Linked DNA regions of Homo sapiens. The protein of the gene in region 4 purifies or fractionates together with the protein of the main gene of each other region. This does not show direct contact. Each region holds a gene or a part of one and is shown on either strand. Other genes may lie near its edges.

Evidence for each region.
Region 1: the proteins of NOP58 (region 4) and POC5 purify together in Homo sapiens (co-immunoprecipitation; 2 studies listed by IntAct). This does not show direct contact.
Region 2: the proteins of NOP58 (region 4) and KPNA1 purify together in Homo sapiens (affinity purification with mass spectrometry; 3 studies listed by BioGRID and IntAct, with this or other methods). This does not show direct contact.
Region 3: the proteins of NOP58 (region 4) and POLR1E fractionate together in Homo sapiens (co-fractionation; one large-scale study listed by BioGRID). This does not show direct contact.
Region 5: the proteins of NOP58 (region 4) and RUVBL1 purify together in Homo sapiens (affinity purification with mass spectrometry; 4 studies listed by BioGRID and IntAct, with this or other methods). This does not show direct contact.
Region 6: the proteins of NOP58 (region 4) and NOP2 fractionate together in Homo sapiens (co-fractionation; 2 studies listed by BioGRID). This does not show direct contact.
Region 7: the proteins of NOP58 (region 4) and RRP9 purify together in Homo sapiens (affinity purification with mass spectrometry; 2 studies listed by BioGRID and IntAct, with this or other methods). This does not show direct contact.

The regions. Positions count from the first base shown.
Region 1 is NC_000005.10:75,686,438-75,689,937, forward strand, and holds part of POC5 (centrosomal protein POC5), read right to left. Parts: intron 2,729-3,500; coding exon 2,575-2,728; intron 892-2,574; coding exon of another isoform or gene 773-891; exon of another isoform or gene 511-772; intron 1-510. UniProt on the Homo sapiens protein: Essential for the assembly of the distal half of centrioles, required for centriole elongation. Acts as a negative regulator of centriole elongation.
Region 2 is NC_000003.12:122,466,440-122,469,939, forward strand, and holds part of KPNA1 (importin subunit alpha-5), read right to left. Parts: intron 991-3,500; coding exon 883-990; intron 1-882. UniProt on the Homo sapiens protein: Functions in nuclear protein import as an adapter protein for nuclear receptor KPNB1. Binds specifically and directly to substrates containing either a simple or bipartite NLS motif.
Region 3 is NC_000009.12:37,495,948-37,499,447, reverse strand, and holds part of POLR1E (DNA-directed RNA polymerase I subunit RPA49), read right to left. Parts: coding exon 3,462-3,500; intron 1,358-3,461; coding exon 1,224-1,357; intron 1-1,223. UniProt on the Homo sapiens protein: Component of RNA polymerase I (Pol I), a DNA-dependent RNA polymerase which synthesizes ribosomal RNA precursors using the four ribonucleoside triphosphates as substrates.
Region 4 is NC_000002.12:202,282,763-202,286,262, reverse strand, and holds part of NOP58 (nucleolar protein 58), read right to left. Parts: intron 1,919-3,500; coding exon 1,782-1,918; intron 1-1,781. UniProt on the Homo sapiens protein: Required for the biogenesis of box C/D snoRNAs such as U3, U8 and U14 snoRNAs. Part of the small subunit (SSU) processome, first precursor of the small eukaryotic ribosomal subunit.
Region 5 is NC_000003.12:128,113,813-128,117,312, forward strand, and holds part of RUVBL1 (ruvB-like 1), read right to left. Parts: intron 1-3,500. UniProt on the Homo sapiens protein: Possesses single-stranded DNA-stimulated ATPase and ATP-dependent DNA helicase (3' to 5') activity; hexamerization is thought to be critical for ATP hydrolysis and adjacent subunits in the ring-like structure contribute to the ATPase activity.
Region 6 is NC_000012.12:6,561,792-6,565,291, forward strand, and holds part of NOP2 (28S rRNA (cytosine(4447)-C(5))-methyltransferase), read right to left. Parts: intron 2,458-3,500; coding exon of another isoform or gene 2,359-2,457; intron 2,156-2,358; coding exon 2,100-2,155; intron 1,981-2,099; coding exon 1,823-1,980; intron 1,724-1,822; coding exon 1,524-1,723; intron 1,380-1,523; coding exon 1,290-1,379; intron 181-1,289; coding exon 93-180; intron 14-92; coding exon 1-13. UniProt on the Homo sapiens protein: S-adenosyl-L-methionine-dependent methyltransferase that specifically methylates the C(5) position of cytosine 4447 in 28S rRNA. Required for efficient rRNA processing and 60S ribosomal subunit biogenesis.
Region 7 is NC_000003.12:51,932,929-51,935,916, forward strand, and holds the end of RRP9 (U3 small nucleolar RNA-interacting protein 2), read right to left. Parts: intron 2,765-2,988; coding exon 2,664-2,764; intron 2,549-2,663; coding exon 2,414-2,548; intron 2,332-2,413; coding exon 2,269-2,331; intron 1,849-2,268; coding exon 1,703-1,848; intron 1,624-1,702; coding exon 1,544-1,623; intron 854-1,543; coding exon 780-853; intron 672-779; coding exon 578-671; 3' UTR 501-577; downstream 1-500. UniProt on the Homo sapiens protein: Component of a nucleolar small nuclear ribonucleoprotein particle (snoRNP) thought to participate in the processing and modification of pre-ribosomal RNA (pre-rRNA).

The DNA.
Region 1 (3,500 bases), on a different chromosome or scaffold from region 4:
TCTGTATAGAAAATTTGCAGAGTATTAGTTAGTTAGCTTATTTAAGAAGTTTAACAATGATTACAGTGCCTACCTAGATCCTTTGAACTCCTCTGATGAAAGGGACTAATTCAATATAAAATACTTTTAATTTGAAAACAAAACACACACTGAGTTTTAACTTGTTTTGGTAGAGATTCTGAGTGTCTATCTTTAGATGGTGGCAGACATTAGGAGATGTAGAAACAGTATGAAGGTCAGGGAAGAGAGGCAGGTGATCAACTCTTGCTAATATAGGCTGATATCAGATAACTCTTAAGTTTAATAATTAATCTCATTTTAGCTGGAATAAATTTTTCACTTGTCAAGTATTTTTTTTTACTGTGCCTAATTGGCACAGTAAAATTGGCAGATATAATTTTAAGGACTTTTTGTCATGTTCTAACTTCTTCATAAAAACCTCTAATTTGTAAGATTTAAGATACTGCACAACATGAGAGGTACTGCAAATTACAGACAGCAAAGAATCGGTACAAATAAAAAACCAAATATTTATTTTGCTCTAACAAGACAGATGCATTAGGAACTTTACATTATTAAAAACTGCATTATAAAAAACAATTTTTTTTTTTGTGAGATAGTCTCGCTCTGTCGCCCAGGCTGAAGTGCAGTGGCATGATCTCAGCTCACTGCAACCTCTGCCTCCTGGGTTCACGCCATTCTTCTGCCTCAGCCTCCTGAGTAGCTGGGACTACAGGTGCCTGCCACCACGCCCGGCTAATTTTTTGTATTTTTAGTAGAGACGGGATTTCACCATGTTAGCCAGGATCGTCTCGATCTCCTGACCTCGTGATCCACTCACCTCGGCCTCCCAAAGTGCTGGGATTACAGGTGTGAGCGACCGCGCCTGGCCTATAAAAAACAGTTGTTTTAATAGAAGGGGGCCAAAAGTAATTTTTTTTTCTTATGAGAACTAAAAAAAATAGGTGTCATTAAAATGTCATAAAACCTAAATATCACAAAGCAGATCCACTGAATTATACTGAACTTTTTTGCCTTTGGTAGCTCTACCAACATTATTGCTAATGCATGCTTTACCATTCTTGTCATCTTTCTCATCGATTGTTTCAAAAGTAACAGGAGCAAAAGAAATCATGTTGTGTAATTAGCAGAAGACATTTTCTTCAAATCCTCTTATGGATATTGGCCTTTAGGAGACACAGTTGCATTTCAATTTACATTTTAAGATGGTAAATGTATTAAGGTGGGAAATACTCCTAAGTCAATTCAAAATCTTTTTAAGTAGGTTATAAGAAACAGGTTTCTTGTAATTTAATGTAAGAAGTTCTAATAGGAATTTGTCACTTTACTTGTGAAACTCATATTTCTCCCAAGTAAACAATTAAATTTCTCAATTTGTGACACACAACTTGCTGATACTTAGAACTGAAACAGACTATTCTATCATTGAAGGTGGTGAGTTTGTTTTCAACCCTGATACTCAAATAAAAGACCATTTATTGGAAAAATCAAGTACTCACCTAGGTATTACCAAAATAAACTATTCAGCCTTGAGATTCCATGATTCTCAGTTTCTAAATTAAATATGGCCCACAAACCACAACCACTTCAGATAGAAAGCAATTTGCCTAAACTTACTCCTATCCACAATATGCATGCTTTAAATAATAAATGTTTGTTGATGTTTTAAAATAAGGGCATCACAAGCACAGAGAAGTTATTCATTGGATTGAAATCATGTTAATCATTTACAAAATCTTGAGACGTTGACTTGAATTAAAACTATTAATAATTACATCATGACTATCATCTTACACGTTAAAGTGCATTTTGTCTTTTAAAGTGTTTTCAGATATGTTTTACTGCATCCCACAAGAAGCCCCTAGGAAGCAGGTAAGGAAGGTTTATATTATCTCCTTCGCTCAGAGAAGAAATCTAAGGCCGAATGAGGAAAACAGGCCCCTGGGTAAATTGGTGGCAAAGGATTCTAGTTATGGGCTTTTCTACGCCATGCTGACAAAACTACTACACAAACCACTCTTATGTCAGACAATATGTGGATTTTTAAAAAAAATAAAATTACTTCTATAGATAGGTCTATATTTATGTTTGCTGCAATGAGCTTAGTTGAGGCCTTTCATAAACAGGAAGATTAGGAATTTCTAAAATGAGAAACCATGACTAGATAACAAATACTTACCAAAATAGTCCAAAATATTTGGCTACTTAAGAAAAGACAAAATTAGAAGTTTTGTACTTAAAAAGGCATTAAAATTCTTAGTTAAAAGAGATTTAAAATAATGCTATACATTAAAATATTATTTTCAACATTTAGCTTAAATACTTAGGAGTGACAGTGTACTTGATCAGATCTAAGATACCATAAGTAACCATGACTGAGCTCATTTTCATGGCAGATTTAAGTCTGGATATGACACCATAGAATTAAGAATAGCAGCACCTGGATGAAACATACCTACTGCAGATTATTTGTACTGTAGACCATACCAATCACCAAAATCTCCTCAAATCTTTTTTTGAAATTAGGCAGAGAAACTTTAATGAAATACTAACCTGCATCATTTCTGTTTTGAAATATAGTCATGGCTTCAAGATTTAATGCACATACACCCCTCATGAAAGCTTTTTTCATGGAATCTTCAAAGTGCTCTTTTTCATGTTGCATTCTTTGAATCTCAGCTTTTGCATTTTCCAAAGCTCCAGATAACTAAAATAAGAATGTTTAAAAAGCAAAACAATTTGAGATACAAAGAAGAATACTGTCAAAAAAATAGATATATACTTTGAGATTATTCTCATGTGAAATATTAAAAAGTTTGTCACTTACCTCTTCTGCTATGTGCAATTTATTTTAAAAGGTACCTCTTACCTCTATTATCTCCATCAACAAAATGCTTTCATTCCTAACCTTAAAATCAAGGTTCAAACAAGGGGAATTTTATCCAGTCCCATTGAATATTGCTGATGTATTTTCATTTCACAAAAAGATACACCATTTTTTACTGTAAAACTTTTATGTAGGATGTTAAACAAAATACATTAAGAGCCACAGACAGCCCTTTCAGAAAAAAATAAAATAAACTACATGCCTGCAATATTAACAGAATTTTTATAATGTAAATGTTACCTTCAGTATTTGAAGTGCAGAGTGACCCTAGGTACAACACACTTTCCCATAGGCCAAACCTCAGGGGACTGCATTTTTTGCATGTCGTAGTGAACTGCAGAAAATTATTTGTATTATGGATTTATTTTTAATCTTAACAATTTAATGCTGTAATGAGTTATTTTTTCATTTTAATATTTAACTTCAAGAGGCCTATTGCATTCTTTAGAATGGATTTTATTTCATTTCAATTCCAAATGTTTTCCCATGAAAACAATGTTAATTTTATTATTAAAAGTCAATGGGAAAAAATAATTTCAATTTCTTTTTTTCTTTTTTGAGATGGATTTCTGCTCTTGTTGCCTAGGTTGGA
Region 2 (3,500 bases), on a different chromosome or scaffold from region 4:
TTCTTTTTAAAAAAACTGTGTGTGTGTACACATATATATATATGTACACATATATAACCTATTTTTAAAATTACGTAATTACAATACTCTAGAAATCTAGATAGGTCTAATCCATACAAATAAAGCATGACTTTTATCTCTTCATGTTAACTTCAAAAAAGTAACAAAATGGTTTACAACAGAAAAATCCAAGAGTTCTGATGTGGAATCAAGTTTTTAAATCATACAAACAGGTCAATTTTGTAAATCAATAAAAAATCATTATTTTCTTTAAAGTATCTCTTATGGCTTGGTGTGATGGCTCAAGCTTGTAATTCTAGCACTTTGGGAGGCCAAGGCAAAAGGATCACTTGAGGCCAGGAGTTCACCTGGGCAACACAGTGAGATCCTGTCTCCACAAAAAATTTAAAAATTTGCCAGTCATGGTGGCACATGCCTGTAGTCCCAGCTATTTGGGAGGCTAAAGCAGGAGGATCACTTAAGCCCAGGAGTTCGAGGTTGCAGTGACCTACGATTGCGCCACTGCACTCCAACCTGGGCAACACAGCAAGACCCTGTCTCTAAAACATAAATAAATAAATAAATAAATAAATAAATAAATAAATAAATAAATAAGGTGTCTATTCTTATTCAACTTTTAAAGAGTAATTTTATCTTATAATTAGCTTGTTAAGTTTTTAGAGCAGAATTAATCTTTATAATTTAACTGCACTTTATCCAAAATATAATAAACATTTAATGAACCATGAGATTAAGCATATTCTTTTTAAAAATGAAATGCCAAGTACTTTTTGTAGCCATCTAACCTTTTTTAAAACTCAAAAGGAAATCTACATCTCATATCTTCATCACAAAAACACTGAAAAGAGTTCATTATCTTACTGGTGCCATCTCCATGTTACTAATCTGAGCCTCATGAAAGCCTCCATCTGACATAACTTCTTCTTCTGTTTCTTCTTCTGCTGTAGCAACATTTCTCCGCTTGAATAACTGAAAGATAAAAGATTGGTAGCAATGTAAATGTAAATTCTAACACAAGGGAGTTCAACATTCAAATACTAGGCACCCCATTCAAAGTGAAGTCTTTGAAAATCATTTTTAAAATTCTAAAGCTGTCAGCTTTTACTGATGAGTAACCATTTCAGATTTCTCCATAGTCTTATAATCAAATATAATTAACTATTACAACATGCTATAAACAACACTTGATAATGTAAAACTTACTAAGAGAGGTCTGACACTATATGACATTAAAAAAAAAAAGGTTGGAAAAAGGAGCTGGGTCATGCTTGGCCATTTTCCTCATCCCTTTATGTAAAGTATACATCAGGACAGTCCTAACAATGTACCAAGGAAAATGAAAATAAAAACTATGTTCAAATGACTTAATACTTCCCTCCTAATCTCCAAAGATGGTGGACTGTGGCTTCTGACCTTCCCAACCTATCCAGCAACCAGTGGCAACAAATGATGACTGCTTAAGCACTACCTTTAAAGCAGCTCCGTTAATGTGTATAGGCAAAGGAGACTAGTTCTCTCCAAAGTCAGCCAACGAGGGTGATTACCATTATATCCTTATGAATCCTGGGCAGCACATTTATTCATCAAGCCATGATGGAGTAACAGTAACTTACCCTCTCTCACGCTGAACAACTAAAAACAGACAAAATACATAAAATAATGTTTCAGCCATTGGACAATAAAAACCACAGAGTAGTGATATCTCAGAAAGAAAAACCCAAGATAAGCCCCAATACTGCCTCAGATTACTATGCAGACAGTTCCAGGCTGCAGTGCAGGAAAGGTAAACTCAACCAGAGTTTAGATGCTCCTTGGATTTGAGAAAACACAGTTCAGAGCTGAGAAGGCCAAGAGACCTAAAATTCATAACGCAGAGTACAACACAAAAAGAACACCCAAGATCTACAGGAGGTTCTCTCTGAGATTTAACTTAATACTAATCAGCACATAATCATATTCTTTCAGAAGACAGAAGCAGAGACAGTACTTCTCAACTCATTCTAGGAGATCAGCATTACTCTTAATACCAAAACCACCTACCAAAGGCCTATTTAACAGTAGTTTCTTTTACCCAGTACATGTCCAGCTATCAAGAAAAAATTACAAGGCATACTAAAATATAAAAAACACATTTTGAAGAGACAGAGCAAGTATCAGAACCAGATTCAGCCACGGCAGTGATGTTGAGATTATCGGACCAAGAATTTAAAACTACGATTAATATGCTAAGGGCTTTAAATGGATAAAGTGGACAGCATACAAGAACAGATAGGCAATGTAAGGAGAGAGATGGAAATTCTAAAAAAGAACTAAAAAGAAATGCAAGAGATCAACAACAACAGAAATGAAGAATGCCTTTGATCGACTTTTTAGTAAACAAGACACAGCTAAGGAAATAATCTCTGAGCTTAAGGAAATCTCATTCGAAATCTTTAAAACTGAAAAGAAAACAGAAAAAGGACTGACACAAATAGAACAGAGTATCTATGAACTGAAACAACTACAAATGGTATAATAAACATGGAATGGAACTATCAGGAGGAGAGGAAAGAACAAAAGAAATATTTGACACAATAATGACTGAGAATTTCCCCCAAATTAGTATCAGACACCAAACTGTAGCAGGCCATGTCTCATTAATGCAGGGCTCCATAACAACTGTTTCAGTACTGACTGACTGGTTAAGTTAAATATTAAAAGCTAAAAAAAGCCAGTGCCCTTATACAAAGGCTGGAATCTAACAAAAGCCCACCAAGAGTTTTGCCTAGGCCTTTCCTGGGCCTTAAAGCATAACAAAGAAATTCCCCAGGCCTCCACAAACAAGTTTATTGGATGTCTGAAAGAACTCCCCAAACCTCCACGAGCAGGAGACAAGATAAGGGTAATCACCTCAGCACCTAGATTAAGTAAATTTACTGAGACTCCAGAGGAAGGTCTTCAAGACTCAGACCTTAGTTACAGATTAAAAGAAGTTTCATCACTTATGTCTTTAGATGAATACACACTTACACGCAGACATATAGCTTAAAAGGTATATAATATCTGGAAAACTTTGTAATTTCGAGTTGGTCTGGCAATAATTTCTAGGCCTTCTCCCTGTAACCAGGTACAAAAATAAAAACTCTCTTCCTCCCCAGTTCATCTGCATCTTGTTATTGGGCCATGAGAAACAGCAGCCCAACCCAGTTTGGTCTGGGAACAAAACCACTGGAAGCCCAGAGAACACCAAGCTGGACAAAGGCCAAAAAAATCCCACTACACCTAGGGATATCATTTTCAAACAACAGAAAATCAGAAATAAAGGAAAAACAATCCTAAAAGACAAGGGTAAAAACACTGTACTTAACACATGAATAAAGATAAGAATGATAACCACACATGCCAGAAGAAAGTGAAGTGAAATATTTGAAGTGTTGAGAGAGAAAACCACCAACCTAGAAACTCTGAACCTTGCAAAATCATCCTTCAAAAGTGGAAAC
Region 3 (3,500 bases), on a different chromosome or scaffold from region 4:
ACATATGTGACAGTGGTCCCATAAGATTTTTTTCACACAGGGTCTTGCTGTCACCGAGGCAGTGGTGCAATCATAGCTCATTGTAACCTTGAACTCCTAGGCTCAAACACTCTTCCTGCTTCAGCCTCCCAAATAGCTGGGAATACAGGCGTGCACCACCCCAGCTAATGTTTTTATTTTTGTGTAGAGACAGTGTCTTGGTATGTTGCCCAGGCTGGTCTCAAACTCCTGCCCTGAAGTGATCCTCTCACCTTGGCCTCTCAAAGTGCTGAGATATAGGCATGACCCACCATGCCCAGCCAGTCCCGTAAGATTATAATATCATAGTTTTACTATTCCTTTTCTGTTTAGATATATTTAGATATACAAATACCATTGTGTTACAATTGCCTATAATATTCAGTATAGTAACATGCTGTATAGGTTTGCAGCCTAGGAACAGCAGCTTATAGCATATAGCCTAGGTGTGTAGTAGGCTATACCATCTAGGTTTATGTAAATATACTCTATGATGTTTGTACAATGACAAAATTGCCTAAGGATACATTTCTCAGAACATATCCCCATCATTAAGCGACACATGACTATACTGAAAAACAGGAGTATAGACTACTGGATGCCCAATCACAGTAACAACAACTAAATACACCTTGTGCCTAAAACCACAGACATCTTCTGGGTTTCCAACTCTGGGTAGGTATGAGGGTGTGACCCGCAAAGGATCCTAGCTACAGGTGACACTGGGTTACCATCAGATTGACTCTCTCCTGTTAGAAATAAGCTGACACAACACAAACCTGCCACAAGCCTTCAAGATACATCTGTGTAACTCATAAGCTCTCTCTATATATACACACACACACGCACACACGTGGCTGATGTTTGTTCTAACAGTCCCTTAAAGTTTTCCTTTTATTTGACCTGGATATTCTACTTTGCCTCATGCAGAATAGAAGTAGCAAATGTTAGCTCTGGAAGGACCCTGAACTATCATATAATCCAACGTGGCCCCAATTTTCAGATGAGAAAATGGGAGATCCAGAGAGAAAAAGGGGCCTGGCAAGTCCCCTCGACATGTCAGCAGTACCAGAATGAATCTCACAGTTGACAGTAAAGACTTGGACAGACATATCCATTTTCTTCTCTCATCAGAACTCATCTAAGAATTACAGACAAATAATATACTGGAAACAATTAGAATAAAATGTTTATCATAGACTTACTTTTCCGCTTAACTACCCTATGAGCTCGAAATTTGATGAGGGTATCCAGAAACCATATGCATCGGGCCTGGCGGTCTCGGCTCTCCACATCTGATGGCAAAGACTTCAACGCTTCTATGACAAAGGTGCAATGGCTAAAACAAGGAAAAGAAAAGGAGGCCTGTGTCAGGGTAAGATGGGCTCTGTCAGGAACTACTTCCCTCTTACAACGAGAACAGCAGGCGCCTCTCACCCCGACGCACTCAACAGCTGATGAAACCCTGGGCAACAAGGCAAGACCCCATCTCTACAAAAACGTAGCCGGCATGGTGGCACATGTGTGTGGTCCCAGCTACTCGGAAGGCTGAGGCGGGAGGATCACTTGAGCCCAGGAGGTCGAGGCTCCAGTGAGCTGTCTGCGCCACTGTACTCCAGCCTAGGTGACAGAGCAAGACCCTGTCTCAGAAACAAAAAAAAACAAACGAACAAAAGCAGCTGATGAAGGGCCAGTACACTCAACACTCCTTATAATAGGAGAACATGGTTCAGTGCAGGGATGAATAAAGGGCTAGACAGTAAATATTTTAGGCTTTGGAGGCCATACAACCTCTGTTGCAACTACTTGACTCTGCCATCGTAGTGCGAAAGCAGGCACAGATATTACTTACGTAAATGAACAGGGCTGTGCTCCAATAAAACTTTATTTATACTTTACTTACTCACAGGCAGCAGGCCAGACTTGGCATGTGGGCTGTAGTTTGCTAACCTCTGACCTCTGTTTTTATAGTCAGGAGCATAGACTCTGTAGTCAGCCTGCCTGGGTTTCAATCCTTTCTCTGCCATTTAATGGTTTAGGCAAGTTTCTTTTTTTGTTTGTTTGTTTGTTTGTTTGAGACTGAGTCTCACTCTGTGGCCCAGGCTGGAGTGCAATGGCGCAATCTTGGCTCACCGCAACCTCCGCTTCCTGGGTTCAAGCGATTCTCCTGCCTCAGTCTCCTGAGTAGCTGGGATTACAGGCATGCACCACCACGCCCAGCTAACTTTGTATTTTTAGTAGAGATGAGGTTTCTCCATGTTGGTCACGCTGGTCTTGAACTCCCGACCTCAGGTGATCTGCCCGACTCAGTCTCCCAAAGTGCTGGGATTACAGGTGTGAGCCACCGTGCCCAGCGGGGCAAGTTTCTTGGTATCTGGTGCCCTGGTTTCTCCATCTATAAATTGGGGCCAATGATAGTACAGGTACTCTCCTCCTGAGCATTTTTTCTGGATTAAGAGATGATGCCAGTAAAGCTCTTAGAACAGTGCTTGGCAAAAATGTTAAGGCTCAGTCAATGCTAACTATTATTTTCAGGCACTGCTCTACTGCTAGCAAGACCCTGGACTCACAGAGATAAAAAGGCTCTTCAAGATCATCTCATAGATGCCTCATTTTACAGATAGAAAAACTGAGGCTTCAAGAAGGGAAGATAAGGGCAGAGTTCGGGGACTCAGTTTTCAGACTCCCCGCTCAGAGTTCGTTCCTGCACCTGCCCCTGAGTCACAATCACATTAAGACAACTATGAACTAGTAATGAGCTCTTTTTTGGAAATAAATCTTTGAAGCAAAAAAAAAAAAAAAAAAAGAAATAATAATAATAATTCCAAGGCACTGGATTTCAATGACCAGTAAAATTTTAAAACAAAAACTGGAGGAACAAACCTCAGATTGACAACTCTTTATCAAAATAAAATTATTAAAAGAAAAAACTCAAAAGCAAAAAAAACTCACTATCATAAAAGAAGCTGTTTTAATGGGAAAGGGGAGGGAGAAGGAAATAATCTCTGAATTATTTAAAATATACAATATTTTAAATACATAAATTTAATGTTAGAAAAGTTTGCCTACCATATCATCACAGAGAAACCATCACTTTGGCCAGCACCCATTCCCAGGCCAGCATTTGGGCCCTGCCAGTGACAATCAGCACCAGCATGACACTGGGTGACACAGGCCAGCTCTAGTTCCCAGCCCCAGAGTAGAAGGCCTCACCACCCTCTGCCCTGTCGCAGGTCCCACGGACTCAGAGACCAGCCCTCTCCCTCGAATGTGACCCACAGCTCCTGAAAGCCCAAACATTCAAGAAAACACTGGCTCATTCATGTCCAATGCTCCAGACACACTTCCTCACTGACTGACGCCCAGAGGACCTGCACAGTGTCTGACTACTGTTGGGTCCCAACAGCACTCCCCAGAATCCCCATCTGCTTAAGTCAGGGTACCTGTTCTCCTCAATCATCTTCAGTATTTCTTCTGACGTG
Region 4 (3,500 bases):
AAAGTGCTGGGATGTATTACAGGCGTGAGCCACTGCGCCTGGCCTATAGTGTTTCTTTCTCCCTTTTTTTTTTTTTTTTTTGAGATGGAGTCTCACTCTGTCACCCAGGCTGGACTGCAGTGGAGCGATCTCCACTCACTGCAAGCTCTGCCTCCCGGGTTCACGCCATTCTCCTGCCTCAGCCTCCCAAGTAGCTGGGACTACAGGCGCCCGCCACTGTGCCCGGCTAATTTTTTGTATTTTTAGTAGAGACGAGGTTTCACCGTGGTCTCGATCTCCTGACCTTGTGATCTGCCTGCCTTGGCCTCCCAAAGTGTTGGGATTACAGGCGTGAGCCACCGTGCCCAGCCTGTAGTGTTTCTTTTAATATTAGCTTAAAATGTCTTTTGAACTGTGGTAATAATTTTATTAGGATTACTATTTGACAGTACTGATTACAAAGTTGCACAGGTTTTGAGCAACTACCTACCATTATTTTCTTCACAACCCTGTTAACTGTAGTGCAATTCCAAAGTATTAAGCTTTTCATGAACAGATGTATCACAACATAGCAATAATGCCTATTCTAAGGGACTTCTAATGAAATATGATAGGGTTAACATGCAATTAAAAATAGGGAGAAGACTGGGCATGGTGGCTCACCCCTGCAGTCGCGGCACTTTGGGAGGCTAAGGCAAGTGGATCACTTGAGCCTGGGAGTTCCAGCCTGGGCAGCATGGCAAAACCCCGTCTCTACAAAAAGTTAAAAAATCAGCCAGGGATGGTGGCGCACACTTGCAGTCCCAGCTACTTGGGAGGCTGAGGTGGCATTGTTTGAGTCCAGGATGTCCAGGTTGCAGTGAGCCAAGATCGCACCACTGCACCCCAGCCTGAGCAACAGAGTGAGACCCTGACTCAAAAAAAAAAAAAAAAAAAAAAAAATGCCGGGTGTGGTGGCTCATGCCTATAATCCCAGCACTTTGGAAGGCCAAGGCGGATGGATCATTTGAGGTCAGGAGTTCAAGATCAGCCAGGCCAACATGGTGAAAGCCCGTCTCTACTAAAAATACAAAAATTAGTTGGGCAGTAGTGGTGCACGCTTGTAATCCTAGCTACTCGGAGGCTGAGGCAAGAAAATCACTTGAGCCTGGGAGGCAGGGGCTGCAGTGAGCAGAGATCACGCCACTGCACTCCAGTCTGGGCGACAGAGTGAGAATCTGCCTCAAAAAAAACAAAACAAAAACAAAACAAACAAAAAAACACAGAGAGAGACATATTTCTTGCTATGTTGCTCAGGCTAGTCTCAAACTCCTGGTCTCCCAAAGAGTTGGGATTACAGGGGTGAGCCACTGCACCTAGTCCTCTTTGCCTTATTAAAAATCAGAGTAAAGCAATGAAAACACAAATACACACCTATCCCATAAGACCATAGCAGATGAGAGAATTTGGGGGAATACTAAGTAGATGGAGGAGTGGCATGACTTAGCAGAGATAAAGGAGGGAAAGCCCAAGAAACAGGGCATCCAAGATCAGAGTAGTAGAGAATTCCTTTGATGAGGTTTTAAGGTTTTAAGAATCCAGACAATAGAGCCAGACTGCCTGGGTTCAAATCCTGGCTTTACCACTTACCAGCTGTATTGACCTTGGGCTTCAGTTTCATCTGTAAATGAGGATATTACTATCATCTTCTTCATAAGGTTCTGATGTGGTTCAAATGAGCATTTGTAACATTCTTAGAACAGATCTATGTTAAGCGCTTATCAAATAAAAGTAAGTTGACTTTATTTTCCAGTAATTCTCACCTGTGAGCCAATCCAAGACACATAGCTGCCATTTCACGTGGTTCTACCCCAGGGATTAATCCATCCATTTGTGAACGAATTCCTCTCATAAGTTCATTAACAACAGGACTATGGATACAACTGAGATTCAGCTTTTCCTACAAGAACATGAACATCTATATTAAATTAAAAAAAAAAAGACTTTCCTGAAGTTGTTATTATTATTTTTTGAGACACAGTATCACTCTGTCGCCCAGGCTGGAGTGCAGTGGCGCAATCTTGGCTCACTACAACCTCCGCCTCCTGGGTTCAAGAGATTCTCCTGTCTCGGCCTGGGATTATTGCAGGCATGAGCCACCATGCCCAGCTAATTTTGTATTTTTAGTAGAGACGGGGTTTCACCATGTTGTACAGGCTGGTCTCAAACTCCTGACCTCAAGTGATCCGCCCGCCTCATCTTCCCAAAGTGCTGGGATTACAGGCATGAGCCACCGCGCCCAGCCTGAAATTATTTCCTAAATATTAAAGTGGCACTAATTTAAATATACGCATTTCTCAGTTGGACAAGAAGCATAATTTCCAGTGTGTTTGTAGAATACTTGACTGTATCACTGGTGGAAGTAAAAACTGATACAAGCTTCCAGAAGACAGCTTGGCTATATAAATTAAAAGCTATAAAAAGATTAATATAATTTGACCAAGTAGTTGGTTTAAGGAGATCTTTTACTACCTGTTATTTAGCTTCTTTTTAAAATTACAGGTTATGCCAGGCGCGGTGGCTCACGCCTGTAATCCCAGCACTTTGGGAGGCCGAGGCGGGTGGATCACAAGGTCAATAGATCGAGACCATCTTGGCCAACATGATGAAACCCCGTCTCTACTAAAAATACAAAAATTAGCCGGGTGTGGTGGCAGGTGCCTATAGTCCCAGCTACTCGGGAGGCTGAGGCAGGAGAATCACTTCAACCCAGGAGGCGGAGGTTGCAGTGAGCCAAGACTGAGCCAATGCACTTCAGCCTAGCGACAGAGTGAGACTCCGTCTTAAAAAAAAAAAAAAATTACAGGTTGGGCGTGGTGGCACATGCCTGTAATCCTAGCACTTTGGGAGGCCAGGGCGTGTTGGCGGGCGTCTGTAATCCCAGCTACTTGGAAGGCTAAGGCAGGGGAATCCCTTGAACCCGGGAGGCAGAGGTTGCAGTGAGCCGAGATCATGCCACTGCACTCTAGCCAGGGCAACAGAGTGAGACTCTGTCTCAAATAAATGAAATAAAATAAAATAAAATAATTAGCCAGCATGGTGGCATGTGCCTGTAGTCCCAGCTACTGAAGAGGGAGGATTGCTTGAGAACAGGAGGTCAAGTCTGCAGTGAGCTGTGAGACTGCGCCACTGCACTCCCAATTAGCTGGGACTACAGGCGCCTGCCACCACACCCGGTTAATTTTCTGTATTTTCAGTAGAGACAGGGTTTCACTGTGTTAGCCAGGATGGTCTCGATCTGCTGACCTCGTGATACTCCTACCTTGGCCTCCCAAAATGCTGGGATTATTATAGGTGTGAGCCACCGCGCCCCGCCCGAATTGTTCTGCTTTCTGTATTTGGGAGGCTATTTTCCTAGTCTTTCTTTCCACTCTCACATTTTATTTCATCTCCAGCAATACACCCCTACTAAAAGTTTTCTAATAAATATATTTCTAAAAAATATAAGGACCCCATTTTCGTTGGAAAAAAATGTGGCTAGA
Region 5 (3,500 bases), on a different chromosome or scaffold from region 4:
CACTGGATCTTTGAGATACCTGCTTTCTCTTTTTACAAATACAGGAAAACACCAATCTACAACCCATCAGAAATAATGAAGGAATGAATGAATGGATTGTTCATTTTATGTTATGTAGCCCACAAAGAGTGAAGAAGGATACCTCAAGTAGGATTTTGAAGCTATGAGTTGGTCTTAACAAGTTACACTTAAACACGCCCTGTGGTAAACTACAAATTGATTTTTGACAAGATAATTACAGCTGGCAAATGCTAAACAGAACCAGACTTCACAGGTGTACGGTCAAATGTCAAGTATGGCAAGCAAATGCTTTAAAGTTGGTACAGAACTGGGCAATGCCATGGCCTCTAAATGCCATTTTCATCTTTCCTCAACTCTGAAACAGGAGCACGAGTAAGGCCAGCTCCCCAGGTATATGGGCTAAGACTGAAAACAAGCTTGTTACTGAAGAACAAAGTGAAACTGAGACGGTGTCTTAAAATTAACAGTCAAGGTTCCTCTCAGATTTTCTTTTCTATGCCCTTTTGGTGATAGTTTTGAGGTAGTAAAATCTGGTAGAGAATCAGTGTATAGCACAGTATAAAATGCACTAGCCAGGAACAGAAAGATTAGTGCTGGTTCTGCCACTAATTTTCAGTGTGACCTTGGGCACTCAGCAAATCTCAGGTGCCCGATTTCCTCATCTGTCAAATGAAAGTACTAAAGTGCCATGCTAGATCACAAGTGGCAAACTCGTTGCTCACAGCCTGGTTCTGTTTGGCCTGCAGTCTCATGGTGACCTTCAGCAAGGCCGAGCACCTGGGGCTCAAGGCAGACACGCCACAGTGCACCCAGCCACTTCCCTCATCCCCGTTGCCTGCCTCATTAGGCATCTGCACTTGTGAGCTCAAGGCTGACACCTTGAAAACTGGTATTCTTCTAAGAGCAAAGGAAAAAAATCTCTGGAACATGAAAGGGCACAATGAGAGGAGCAGCACTCTAACAGCAGACTCCCCGTGGGGCCACAGGCTGGACAGGACCACCCCTTCCCAGTTACTCCTTTCTCTTCCTTGTATCTCTGCCAGCCCCAATTCCCTACCCTCAGTTTTGAACTTCAAAGACAGTGACCACATCCAATTCAATGGCACTCTCCCTCCCTTTAACTAATACAGAAGAGATGAACATACTTCCATTAAAATATGATAAATACTTGGTTAAAAAAAAAAAGCTTCATGTGTGTCTCGTTTCCTCCATTTAAAGACTTCCAGAGGGAAAGTATATGATATGGCTACTATTCCTACACCTACTACAGAGTGCTGCATAGACCTCATCGAATCTCCCCAACTAGCCTATGACCTTGATCATCTAGTTTGTATTTTATAGATTAAGAAACAAACTCAAAAGTTACCAACACACCCAAGGTAAAACCGCAAGCAGCAGCACCAGGATGCAAACCCCAATCTCCAAAGCCATTTTTTTTTGTACTCACCCCATGTGAGTGACAAGTGGCACAAAAAAGAGGTTGTTGCCAAAAGAAGGTTGAAGAAATCTCTATTTTTCAATCTCATCTGAATATCTCCTTCTTCTAAAACCCAAACCCATTATTAACAGTGTGAGGTCCTCAAGAGTGGAAATGCATATGAACCATGCATTTGCATCTCTAAAATAAGCAGTATTTCTGCCTGTCACCCAGGTAAGTTGCCTAAACTTTGGGACCCTGCAGCAAACCATTAAGCAGAAGTCACCAAATTCCTTCATACACATTGGAAGGGAGTGGACAAACTTATAAGGTAATACCACAGTGCTGAGCACTTCTCATATTTCCTGGGAGGAAAGCAATACAATATCACCAAAAAAAATGAAAGACATATGCTTCTAGCAATATGGCACACTGGGTCCACTGAAAACCTCTCCTCTTACAAAACACCTAGAATTGAATAAATAATAACATTCAGAGCAGTAAACTATTTGCCTTGAAAGTTCAGAGACTGTAGATACAGGAAAGCTCAGCAAGGTATAGCACTTAAGATAGAAACCCCTGAATAAAACCGGGACTGGGCACGGTGGCTCAAGCCTGCAATCCCAGCACTTTGGGAGGCCGAGGCAGGTGGATTGCTTGAGCCCAGGAGTTCAAGACCAGCCTGGGCAAAATGGCGATACCCCATCTCTACGAAAACTACAAAAATTAGCCAAAGCGTGGTGGTGTGCACCTGTAGTCCCAGCTACTCAGGAGGCTGAGGTGGGAGGACCACCTGAACCCAAGAGGTAGAGACTGCAGTGAGCCGAGATCACTGCACTCCAGCCTGGGTAACAGACCACTGCACTCCAGCCTGGGCGACAGACTGAAACTGTCTCAAAAAACAAACAAACAAACAAAAACATTACAATTAAAAAAAAAACATAAAAGAGGACTCTTGAAGGGCCACACATGAGTAAAAAAGGTGGGCCATAACAAAATACATCTGGGGGCCAGGCACAGTGGCTCACGCCTGTAATCCCAGCACTTTGGGAAGCCAAGGCAGGTGGATCACCTAAAGTCAGGAGTTCGAGACCAGCCTGACCAACATGATGAAACCCCATCTCCACTAAAAATACAAAAATTAGCCAGGCACCTGTAATCCCAGCTACCCAGGAGGCTGAGGCAGGAGAATCGTTTGAACCTGGGAGGCAGAGATTGCAGTGAGCCAAGATCACGCCACTGTACTCCACCCTGGGCAAGAGAGCGAGACTTCATCTCAAAAAAAAAAAAAAAAGACATTATAACTTGTAACAATTTATGCAGTGTGTAATCTTTGATTGCATTTTGATATTCTGGTGTTTTTTAAAAAGCCAAAAACTGAAACAACTTGGAAAGATGTTTTCTGATTTCTATCACCTATATTTTCTTTTCATTAAAACAATTTAACTTCGTTGTCTTTGAAAGCACATTTGTTAACTGCTCATGGAATCATATGATGAGCTGCCAGGCTCCCTCATCTTTGTGATTTCTCTACCACAGTGGATATGGTTACCTACTCCTTTCTTTAAAGGTTCTCCTTTCTTGGTTCCTGAGACACCATTCTCTCCCTGGCTCTGCTGCTCATTTTTTAAAAATTAATTAATTTAATTTTTAATTGACAAAAATTGGGGGAATATAATAGCATTAGCAAGGTGGGTCTGATGATGGCACCGTGGTCATGTAGGAAGACATCCTTACAACTTACTGTCAAGTGGTTCAGAAATAAACTAGAGAAAAAGCAAATGTCACAAAATATTTATAACTGGCTATCTAGGTATAGGGTATAGAGGGGCTCATCACACTATTCTTTCAAGTTTTTTGTAGGTTCCAAACTTTTCAAAATGAAAAGGAAAAAAATATTCAATAGATTGGATTAATCAGTCACTTAATCATAGCTTAAGAGACAATTAGACTGGAACAAAGATCTAAAAGAAATTACCCATAATTTAGCAGAGTCAAAAAGATAACAAATATGAGAGGCTAAAAGACAAAGAGGACAAAACGAGAAGCTCTAGCCCAGGGT
Region 6 (3,500 bases), on a different chromosome or scaffold from region 4:
TCGGGGGTAGCACCTGTGGAGAAGGACCACCCTGTGACATGCGGTAGGGACAGGGACAGAGGTAGAAGGGCTCTTGGGTGGGGGAGACTTACCAATGGGCACAGAAGAATCATACACCACTAGTCCAGTCTTTGACCACTTGCCCAGGGGATCCAGGTTAACCCCACGATTGATTAGAGCCTGAAAAGGGATGAAGATTTTTTTTTTTTTTTTTTGAGATGGAGTCTCACTCTGTTGCCCAGGCTAGAGTGAGGTGGCGCAATCTCGGCTCACAGCAACCTCCACCTCCCAGATTCAAGCGATTCTCTCGTGCCTCAGCCTCCTGAGTAGCTGGGACAACGGGCATGTACCACCATGCCTGGCTAATTTTTGTATTTTTCATAGGATGGGGTTTCACCATGTTGGCCAGGCTGGTCTCTAACTCCTGACCTCAGGTGATCTGCCCGCCTCGGCCTCCCAAAGTGCTGGGATTACAGGCGTTGAGTCACCGCGCCCGGTAGGGATGAAGATTTTAATAACCTCATAGGCTACTCTACCCAGAAGACAGATGAAGACATTAAACACATGCTTCATAAAAACATGGCCCATACCCCACAACTCCTATAGTGCTTACTCCAAACACAGTCATCATGGAGTCATTGAGCAGTTTCTCTCTCCCACTCCATCCTATGGTGCCCTTTTTTCTTAACCTCAGGCTCCTAACTCAAGATCTGAACTTCATCCCAATGGAGCAGGATGCCACCTCCTGTTACTTTATTTCCTAGAAGTGGCATCTGATTTTCTAAGAGGCTGAGCCCCTCCACTATACTAAAAATTTAATGACATTGGTTATACCACATTACATTATTAGGTTTTCTTCACACCAGGAAATATACAACACATATAACCCAACAACTGACTTTACAACAGGGGTCTTTAACCTGGGGCCCCTGAACCCTTGGAAATGAGTTTAAAATATTGACTGTGCATATGTGTCTTTTTTGTGCAGTCAGGAATCATATTTCCCCAGCTCCTCAATGATCTCCCTCCAATTTCCTTGGGGGCAGCACGCTCATCCTGAAGTCTCATCATCCTAGTCACAGGGAGCAGAGTATGAACTTCCCATTCCACAGAGGTCCTAGGCCCCCAGATCCTATCCTGCCAGAGACATCAGGCCTCTGGGTTTGCCCCCCCAGGATCATGCTTAGGTCCTAAGGCCCCACCCAGTCAGGGTAGCACAGAGGAATCTCTGGAGTTGGCAGAAGTCACTTCCCTTCTGAGATGAGTGAGCCTCAAAGGCCACCCCTCACCTGTGCAAGGTCTCGGCGTCGGGTTTTCAAGGTATTGGTCCGGAGGGTGACGGGCCGAGGCACCTCATTAGCTTCTAAGAACTCCACCAGCTGCGGGGCAAGACAGCAGGGAATAAGTGAGGCTGGCTAAGGAGCTCAGTCAGAAGAGGGGAGCAAGGGGGCCGAACATCTTCCTTACACAGCGTAAGGAGGCGAGAAAAGAAAAGCAAAAGAGGCATTCTGGCAATCCAGTACCTCAGACAGAGGGAAGAGGTCCATGAGCTTGCCAAGCAGGAAGTCTCCATAGGAGTAGTAAATGGCCAGATCCTTCTTGAGCCGGTTCAGGTATTCAGAACGAGACCGCCCTTCCTCCCGCTGAGCCCCAAAATCACGCAGAATTCCCACAATATCCTGGATCCGCTTGTGAACTCGTTGCAGGTCTGGAGCCTGGGCATGTGGGCCTGTTAAGGAACTGTGTCATGATGTCCTAAGGCCTGGAAATCCCTCTCCCAACCACCTTCCTCCTAACTCTTCACTCTGCCCTGCAAGGATATCCTGCTCCATCTCCCCAGCAGGGGGCAGCACAAATGGTTCCTCATCCACATTGATCTGCAGGCCCCCATCTGCCTCTTCCACCTTTGGGGGGCCTGACTCAGGGGTCACTTCTTTCTCTTCCTCCTCGTCCTCGGTCTCCTCTTCACTCCACTGGATCCTAGAAACAGGTCCAGGAACAGAGTGATTCACAGACCAAAACAGATACCTCCTCCTTCCTCACAGCTTCCCCACCCCAGTGGCTTCCTATGCTCCATCCCAATAGCTTCCAAAACTCACCCAGCAGCAGCTTCCCGGGCCTTCTGCTTCCGAGCAGCTCTTTCAATGGGCAGCAACTGAAGAGAGACAAGGGCTATTAATACAGGCCTGCCCTTCCATCAGCCCTTGTAGCAGTTCTATCTCTATATCTTATTTTTTCGCTAAATAAAAATCCAACACTTGCTCTCAGAAGGAAATAGAGGAGCAAAGAAATGAAAATAAGATGGGCGCAGCATTGCTCACTGTTGAAACTAAGTAATGAGGGCATGGTGGCACACACCTGTAAATCCCAGCTACTTGGGAAGCTGAGGCAGGAGAATTGCTTGAACCCGGGAGGTGGAGGTTGCAGTGAGCCAAGACCGAGCCACTGCACTCCAGCCTGGGCAACAGAGAAAGACTTCATCTCAAAAAAAAAAAAAAAAAACCTAAGTAATAAATTAAAGGGTTCATTACATTTTTCTTTCTACTATTATGTTTTTCACTTTTCCATTAAGAAAAAAAAAAAACTTGAAAAATACCTGGATGTATAAAGAAGGACAAAAATGGCCCTTGACTACCATTCTGCCATATTTTTTTTGAGAGAAGTCTCGCTCTTGTCCCCCAGGCTGGAGTGCAATGGCGCGTCTTGGCTCACTGCAACCTCCGCCTCCCAGGTTCAAATGATTCTCCTGCCTCAGCCTCCCAAGTAGCTGGGATTATAGGCGCGCACCACCATGCCCAGCTAATTTTTTGTATTTTTAGCAGAGATGGGGTTTCACCATGATGGCCAAGCTGGTTTTGAACTCCTGACCTCAGGTGATCCGCCCACCTCGGCCTCCCAAAGTGCTGGGATTACAGGTGTGAGCCACCGTGCCTGGCCCATTTTGTCGTTTTTTTTTTTTTTTTACTTACTCTGTATTTTTCACATAATCCATTTTCAAGTTTGTTTCTTGCTTTTTAGACTTCAGTTACATCACAGGCATTTTCATAGACATAATGACCAGTGTAACTGCATCATATGCATGAACCATAACTTACTTAAGCATATTGTGTATTTTGGAAGTTTCCTGAGTTTTTGGCATTATGATCCACATGGTGCCTGCAAACCTAATAATGACCCTGTAGATACAAGGGGATGTAGGAAGGGGGTGCACATGGGGACCTTCTCTTTTTATTCTATACGATTCTAATAATACATCCACACACTAATTGTATAATAACTTCCTGCACCTCAGTAAAGAACTATTTGCTGACATTTTGGATCATCTTCCTTAATAGGGAATTACTATGTCAAAAGGAAGCAGTTATTTTTTTTTTTTTTTTTTGAGACAGTCTCACTCTGTCACCCAAGCTGGAGTGCAGTGGTAAGATCACAGCTCACTGCAGCCTCAACCTCCCAAGCTCCAGTCATCTTCCCGCTTCAGCATCCTGAGAAGCTGGGAC
Region 7 (2,988 bases), on a different chromosome or scaffold from region 4:
TTCTGACATTCAGACCAAAGACAGAGCTCTTCCCAACTTGGACCCCTGTCTCCAAACAGTAAGCCCACCAGTGCAGGGTCCCACTCCCACTCCTGACCCCCACACCTCACGGCAGTCTGTCCCCTCCAGCTTCCTGACCTGACCTGGGAGAGGAAGCGAAGCCAGTTTGATGTGCAGGTCCGCTGTCTACAGTCCAGTCCTGACCCCAGCACCAGCCCTTACAAGCCCTGGCTTCTGAGCTGAGGGGTGAGTAGCTTCTGACCCCGACCACCCAGAGCAGTGGCAGGCAGCTAGCCTGAGGAGGTCGTGCAGGACACGCAGGGACAGGAGCCAGGAGCCAGTTGAGGTCTCCATCCCAAGTTCTTTGGAAAAGGATAACAGCCCTCAGGCTAGCAGAGGGGCAGAGCTAGGAGACTGCTGGAGTCCTGTCCCTCCCCAGGCCGCCTCCCACCCAGTCCCTCATGCACCCCCACCCCCACCAAGAAGCTACAAGAAACAAGGCCCAAAAGAGGAGGCTTTTAATACAAAGAGGGTGGGGCATAGCCTGGGAAGGACTTAAATAAGGAGGATAAGAGTGTCAGGAACCAGCAGCTGGGGGTACAGGGACCCTGCGGAGTGGGATGATGCAGACAGAATTCCGAGCCTCTTTGATTCTCCACCATCGGCCAAGCCTGCAGGGAGTGCAAGACGCAGCTGAGACTCGGCCCAGTCTCCACCCCATTTCCACCGAGCTGTCCAGCCTGCACCACCTTACCTGAACCCTCGAGGGCCACACATACCTGTGCTCCTGCCCTACCCCAGCCACCAGGAAGTCCCCAGAGCTGGAGAACTTGAGGCTGTTGATAAAACCCACCTGAGCAGAAAGACAACACGGAAAGACATTAGAACGCCCCCCGCCACCACCGTCCTCAGCATCACAGTCAAGGGCTGGGCCTTATCAGGCCTGGGTTAAATCCCTGCTCTGCCTCCTGCCACCTGGTGACACAGGCCAGCCCTTCACTTGTCAGGGCCTCAGCCTCCACATCTGCGAGATGGGGGTAAGCAGAGCACGGGGCTAGCAGTGAGTTTGTGAGGATGAAGGAGGCAGTGTACACCCAGTATGGCCTGAGGCTGGCTCCTGGTGGTGGGGCCCTGGAGACCCCATGACTGTCCCCACTGACCTAGACCCTGCATTCTCAGCACACATCACTGACAGATCCTGCCACCCTCCCCCAGGTCACCCTAGTGTGGACAGTGAGGTCCACACCCTCTAGCCTGGCACCCAATCTGGCACCAGCAGTACAGAATTCATCACAGGGCCAGGCCTCCATGCCTCTCCCCATGCTGCTCCCTGACTTGTACCCCAGCACCCTGGACAGGGCCTAGGATAGGAAGGGGAGCAGAGGAGGGAAAGTGGGGAGGGTTCCTGCCAGGCCCTGTGCTAGGAGCTGGCCCTGCCCTGAGAAGGTTCCCTTCTGGCAGGAAGAAAGACCTTAAAGAGCTAACTCCAGGGGCCTAGGCAGTGTGGCAGAGACAGGCTGAGCATTCAAGCACACTCACTCACCAGGGGGATGTCACAGAGAAGGTCAAGCTGCCGGAAGCCTTCCCCACACTGCCAAAGCCGCACACAGGAGCTGTGGGAGCCTGGGGAGACTGGAACAGTGAGCAACCCCTGCACCGGCCCACCCGGCGACCCCTCCTCCCTGCCTCTCAGGGCACCCACCTGTGGCCACAAGGTCTGTGTTGAGGAGGGCTGCCACCGACGATATCCAGAAGGGCTGCTCCAGGCCTGGCTCTCCCCGCAGCCCGTGAGCTTCACGCTGCAGGGCAAGTGGTCGCTTCTTGGAGAGACCCCACAAGGCCACAGAGCTATAAACAGGGAGGGAATACAGCAGTGAGGGGGCCAGAGGCAGAAAAGGCCCCCTGTGTAACACAAAGGATTAATGCTTGAGGGGATGGATACCCCATTTCCCATGATGTGATTATTACATATTGCATGCCTGTATCAAAACATCTCAAGTACCCCACAAATACGTACACCTACTAAGCACCCACAACAAATTTTTTTTAATTCTAAAAAAAAAGAAAAAAGGCCACATGACAGGAAGGGATCAAGGGCACACAGCCCGGACAAGGCCATCTGAGCTCTCTGCCTCATCATCCTCATCCATGAAAAGAGGTTACAACAGCTCCCCCACTGGGGGTGCCCTGAGGCAAGCTCAGGGCCCCGTGGACAGCCAGCACTCAGGAGCAGAAGCCGTGGCCAGAGACATCCAAAGGACCTCTTACCCATCGTCCGCGCCGGACACCATGTGCTCCTCATTGATTAGGTGGATGCAGTCGATGGAGCCCCTGGAGAAAGGGGCTGTGAGGAGCGTGGCCCAAGCCCACCCCCAGCCCATGTAGCCCCCACTGGCATGGCAGGCCACCTTACTGGTGGCCATAGAAGACAAGCTGGGACTCCTCGGGGATCTTCCACACACGTACAGTCCCATCCCGGCCCCCAGCCGTCACACAGCACTCCCGGCTCAAGGCATCCAGTGCAGCCACAGCGTCCTGGTGTCCGAAGCTAGAGGGCCGGGCAGAGCAGGATAGTGGGGATAGGGGTACTGCATGAACTCACGGGCACACACTCCCACACCCTCTCTCACACCATCCACACACCCTCTCCCATCCACACTCACAGCGTCTCCACGTAGGAGTTCTCTGCCACATTCCACACCTTCACGGAGCGATCGTGGGATGTGCTGTAGAGCTGGTGGGTGCCTCTGCGGAATGCCAGACCCTAAGGGTGCATGGGGAGAGGGCAAAGGGGACCTGGACTACAGCAGGCGAGAGACAGGTCAGGCCCAGGGAGGACTTCCCAAAAAGCAAGCCATGTGGCACGTGCTGTGAGGCAATTTTGTACTGCCCACATGCCCATCTGCCCCTGAGCAGATGCAGACGTCTTTTTTATTTATTTATTTTTTTTAGCGACAGGGTCTCATTCTGTTGCTCAGGCTGGAGTGC